2 separate regions of the Homo sapiens genome follow, and region 1 is linked to region 2. The links come from fine-mapping of genetic effects on gene expression. A gene starts in region 2. The other region holds a variant in brackets. All regions are shown on one strand. Distances are between the middles of the regions. Region 1 overlaps ENPP3 (ectonucleotide pyrophosphatase/phosphodiesterase 3). Region 2 holds the start of ENPP3 (ectonucleotide pyrophosphatase/phosphodiesterase 3).

What was found. PIP is the estimated chance that this variant, and not a neighbour inherited with it, causes the effect.
Region 1: its variant is fine-mapped to the expression of ENPP3 in whole blood (INTERVAL, PIP 0.95).

The regions. Positions count from the first base shown.
Region 1 is chr6:131,716,207-131,719,132 of GRCh38, reverse strand. ENPP3 (ectonucleotide pyrophosphatase/phosphodiesterase 3) reads right to left here. Exons shown (of 25, transcript NM_005021.5): 16 at 395-461. Among named protein-coding and RNA genes, the nearest start is that of CTAGE9, 6.7 kb to the right of the region's middle. The variant C/T (reference allele first, on the strand shown) is at 1,315.
Region 2 is chr6:131,635,462-131,638,387 of GRCh38, reverse strand. It overlaps ENPP3 (ectonucleotide pyrophosphatase/phosphodiesterase 3), which reads right to left and starts at 1,086. Exons shown (of 25, transcript NM_005021.5): 1 at 926-1,086. The coding sequence starts at 1,003. RefSeq lists a silencer at 2,358-2,447.

The sequences.
Region 1 (2,926 bases), 81 kb before region 2:
AGGGTACCCCAAAATACTCCCAATTTCTCCCTTACTCTCCTTTACTTTTTCTTTATTTCCCACAGCATTTACCTTCTGACATAACAAATAATGTATTATTTTATTATTCCTACTGTCTGTATCCCCCTCTTAGAATAAAAGCTTCGTGAGGGCAGGATCTTAATCTGTTTTGTTCACAGATGTATTCAAGAACCTTGAACATTGCCTATAATAAAATAGGTGTGCAATAAATATCTGTTTTAAAAAAGCAGTAACTAGGCTTAACATCTGAGTAATGAAATAATCTGTATGACAAACCCCCATGACAGATGTTTACCTATGTAACAAACCTGCACATTCTGTACATGTACCCCTGAACTTAAAATAAAAGTTAAAAAAAAAAGCAGTAAGTTACCTCCATGCTCCTAAACTCATTGTTATAACCATGGTTGCCTCCTCCACAATTTGTATTTGATTTACTCCTATAAAGAAAAAATATTATTACACACTGATCAATATATTGATATGAGACCATAGTGTAAGATTTAACTAATTTTATATAGTTTCTGTAAATTTTATAAGTAAATTTTTTTATCAACAACAGAATAATATATTTTTCTATCAACAACAGAATAAATTTTTATATCAATAATGAATAAATATATTTATTTTCATGCTCAAATTCATAACCATAATGGAACAAACAGAAGGGTACGAGAGAAGAAAGGAAAATTCCAGGATCTATAAATAGAATTCAAAAGTCTCTGACTGATAGATACTGACTAAGGCTAGTAATAAAGGTACATATTTTAAAAAAAAATGAATTTGTCTTCAAGCTCATGGGTGTACCTTTACACATCAATGACTATATGCTGAAGAATAGTTTGGTTAATATGTTATTTTAGCATTTCAATGCTTTAGGAATAAATCTTTGCAACTGGGGAAAAATATCAATTTCTGTTTTCCAGTGAAGATGTCTAGGAAAATAATATGAAAGCATGAATAAAGAATAGGCAGGGCAAGTTAATTATAATCCAGTCATGCGTTGCTTAAGGGCAGGAATATGTTCTGAGAAATGCATTCTTATGCAAGTTTATCATTGTGGAAACATCACAGAGTACACTTACACAAGCCTGGATGGTACAGCCTTCTACGCACCTGGGCTATGTGGTCTAACCTATTGCTCCTAGCTACAAACCTGTACAGCATGCTACTGTACTGAATACCACAGGCAGCTGTAACACAATGGTAAGGATTTGTGTATCTAAGCACATGTAAACATAGAAAAGTTATAGTAGAACTATAGTATTATAATCTTATGGGACCACCATCACA[C/T]AAGCAGTTCATTGTTGGCCAAAATGTTGTTATACAACACATAACTGTACTTGGTAAAAAGAAGCTAGTATATTCTGTAAATTCAGAGATTATTATTATAATTATGTTTACCTTTGTGATTTTCTTCCATAGGCTGTAGCTTTATTATTTGAATAAATTTTCAAATTTAATTAATTAGTTTTTGCCTACATTTTAATACTGTTTTGAATTGAGCAGTATTAACAATTTTATAAGTAGCTGTTTTTCATACTTGGAAAATAGCGATAAATGAACCTAGATCTTTTAAAGCAACAATGTTATACTGAGTCAAATTTGATCTCTGAAGGGAACAAAGGACTCCTATTTCCAAAGGCTGGCCCTAAAAGATTCTCTCATTTTCTTCCCCACCCTCACCTCTCACCCCAAGGGCAAATACACACACACACACACACACACACACACACACACACACACACACACACACACACCCCCCGCAGGGTTTCTGTTTGTTTTTACAAACTCGACTCGACTAACAACAGGACAGTAATTTAGTGTCTTTAAAAAATCAACATTAAAAAAATTCATAACTGACTCTAATTCAGTTTAAATAGAAAATAAAAATAAATCACAAATTAAAAAATAAATCACAAATCTGACCAGGCCACACTCACTCAACTCTACCCAGTAGAGGGAAGAAAAGAGAGGCCAGGTAAGTACCTGGAATGGGGAAAGCAAGACAAGTCCTGATTCAGAAGGAAATTAAGTTTGATATCCTAAGGATGTCACTTCATTTCCTTATCTTAGTTAATGCCAATAAAATTGCTGGCATATGACAACTATAGGTTTTATTTATTTATTTATTTATTTTTGAGACTGAGTCTCGCTCTGTCGCCCAGGCTGGAGTGAAGTGGCGTGATCTTGGCTCACTGCAACCTCTGCCTCCTGGGTTCAAGCGATTCTCCTGCCTCAGCCTCCCGAGTAGCTGGGACTACAGGCATGTGCCACCACATCCAGCTAATATTTTTGTGTTTTTAGTGGAGAGAGGGTTTTGCCATGTTGGCCAGGCTAGTCTGGAACTCCTAACCTCAAGTGTTCCACCCATCTCAGCCTCCCAAAGTGCTGGGATTACAGGCATGAGCCACCACACCCGGCCTCTATTTTTTTAATTATAAATAAATAAATGTTTTTATTCTTACTGCATAGATATTTGGTTTCCCAATATTAATGGAATTATTTAGTAGGAGGTAATTAAGTTTTAAATTCTGTGTGGAAAGCTAGAATGTTCATTAATGAAAGAAAGAAAAAGGTTTTTTGACTAAGTTTTTTGGTAAATTTTCTAATGCTCGTACTATGGTTATTTTTCTATTTTCAGAAAAATCTAGTTTTTTAAAATATTTCCATCTCCTAATCCAGCTCAATTTAAAAACTATAGTAAATATTGCAAAATTTCATTCAGAAGCAAAATATTAAAATATTGTTTGAAAACTCTCTTTTCTATTTATTTCCAAGTAAAAACTTTGGAAATTTGCTCTCTACCTCCTCATGTTCATGTCTAATCATTAATTTAGCTTTGGAAGTTACATATGGAACAATGATAGCTGGCACTTGGAAAATGAGTTGATTCTATCTGTCA
Region 2 (2,926 bases):
CTTAGATAGGGTTTAGTGAAGCTTGTGTTGTAATTTTCATGAGAATAAAGATAAATTGTTGGCTAAGAATGCAGATAAGGAAAAAAGTCATAAAATGAAAATGTCAATGTCATGGTAGAAGCAAGGGGAGAGAATAATTCAGAATGAGAAAGTACCAGGAAGTTATTGTTGTTATGAACACTCAAGTGGATGAAGGACGAGGAGGACTGACTTTTGAGTCAGGGACTCAGTACAGTAGAAACAAAGCCAGAGCACAAAGGAATGGTTGGGGGCTGAGAAAACTGAAGCAATGAAATGAGCCCTCTTTACCCCAAAAGTTTGATGGCAAAGGGAAAAGAGAGAGTAATAAAATCAAGGAAATGGATAAGCGTATTTCTGGAGTAAAAAGAAAAAGAAAAAAATTTAAAATTAAAAAAAAGAAAAAAGAAAATAAAATCAAGGAAAATTTATTTGGGGGGTGAGGGGGGGTGGCAGATCTTACCACATGAAATGACAAGAGAGAGAAAATAGGCAAAAGAGACTATCTCTAGGAGTGAAGTAAAATAGGATACAATTGTTGGTTCAGCAAATAATAGGGTACAATGATTTTAATTTCTCACTTTCTTGTCTTAAAATACTCATGCAATAAAAAAGTGATTGAGAGGTAGTTATAATCATGCAAAAAATCAGCGCCACAAAGCGTTCTGTCATGGATTCCAACTTTTGAGTTTAACGTAATGTTAACTTGTTGTTACTCAAATTTCTTACGTGTAAAATATGATTTAAGATATTAATTTGCATTAGAGTTTTCATAAGGGATAATACTGAATACAGTTACTTAAAAGTTTACATTTTAATAGCAACACAAAGAAATGTAAATGGGAAATCATATACTTTTAACATTTGTCACAAAACTAGAAAGACTAAAAATAAGAATTGTACTTACAATGCAAGCTATTTTATATTTCTTAAGAGTGTTCTTCTTAACAGGTTGTTCCGTTGCTAAAGTCAACGTAGATTCCATTGTCCTGGTAGCTGCATAGACCTGTTTTATCAGAATAAATTAGTGCTCCTTCTTTAGTCTAGTCTGGCAAAGAGAAACTGTATGAGTTACATAGCTGTGCCTGACTTTTAACTGTTTAGGAAGATCACAGCTCTTCAGTGATTGGGCAATCTGGAGAGAGGAAAAAATGTTGTAATAAGAATCGTGTGAAAAGATTAAAGTTCATTTCTAGTATATTGCAGACAACTGCTCCTTTTTTCCTTATAACTTTTACTAAATACTAGTCAAGACATATATAACAAGAATAACACAATCATCAAATTTTAATGCAATCCGATCTTCTGTTTTCTTTAAAAATAACCCCGAACAAAAAGCCTTGTCACAGAAATTTCAGACTTTCCGCTTTTCTATAAACTTCATAGCAGCTGAAAATCAACATAGCAAAACATGTGCTTTGACAACAGTAGAAATTCTGAAACTCTGCTGAACCAATATAAAGTACTTAGTTCTGTGATAATTATATCTTGCTTTTTACAGTGTTCACAATTTGACAAGTTTTTATACACATTAGCTCAAGTCAAACTTAAAAATATCCCTTATAAACATTTTATTCTTGTTTTTAGATGAGCAAATTAAGGCTCTGATTATTTAAATTAAGTTATTATATATGACTTATTGCTCAAAATTATTTACTAGGTGCCAGAACTAGAACTGATACCCAAGACTTCTAACTCCCCAAATCCAAGCAATTTTCACTAATCAATTTAAATTCACTATTTTCTTATGTATCTAGACTGGTGCATCCTAGCATGTGTACTCCATGCTGAAAAGGGGTTACAGTTTGGTGATGAAAGAAGCTAAATTAATAATAGTGTTGGTCAAAGAGAATTTTAGCAAATAGTGGATGCTAAACTCTTCTAGTTTCAGTGACCCTAAGGCAGTGATTCTCAAAGTTTGGTTCCATGGAACATGAGTTCTATGACAACCCCCTTGGTTAAATAAAGCTTGAATACTCCTCTAATGAAAAGATTATCAAAATCCTGTAGACTGCAGTACACCCTTTGGAAAACACTACTCTAACTAACTAAACTCTTCCAACCCTAAAAGCAGTGAGAAAAAAAATATGAAAAGAATGTATTCTAATATAAATACAATGACTGCATCACTACTCTAACTAAACATGTCTAAATCATAGAATTTAGACACTATTTCTGAAAATCAGGGGGAAGAGGATTGCTTGAGTCCAGGAATTTGAGACCAGCCGGGGCAACATAGGGAGACTCTGTCTCTATAACAACAACAACAAAAATTAGCCAGGCATGGTGGTGCATGCCAATAGTCCCAGCTACTGGAGAGGTTGAGGTGTGAGGATCCCTTGAGGCCAGAGTTTGAGGCTGCAGTGAGCCATGACAGATACACAAACAAGCAGAGACAGATTTCAGACAAAGACAAGAGAGGGGGTGCACTCGGGCAGAACAGACTCAAAACCCACTCAAAACCTGATCTTAACCAAATGCAAAGCAGGTGTATAAGCGAGCCCTATTGCTTCCCTGGCAGTACCAGGCAAATGGCTTAACAAGCCCAGATGGGAAAATAATAGGCTCCTGGCATAAATCTGGTTTTACCCTTTGAGCGCGTCCACCCCGATCTCCGTTATTCCCCAGTAGGGAGAGGGACGTGTGGTTTTGCACATGGGATAGCCCTGGGGAGAGTCTCCAGGAAAACCTCACCCGGCAGCTGCTGGGAATCTCCCGAAGACTGTCTTGTCACAAGGAGTGTGAGTATTCCTTCGTTATCTTGTCATGCTTCAAGGCCCAGGAAGGCCTGGGAAAGAGTCTTGGTGGGCCTTTGTTACTTGTTCTGGACTTTGTGTAAGGGCACTGGCTCTCTCAGCCTTTAATATTTAACCTAACCATTCAGTCAGTGCTGAAACAGTTATTATGG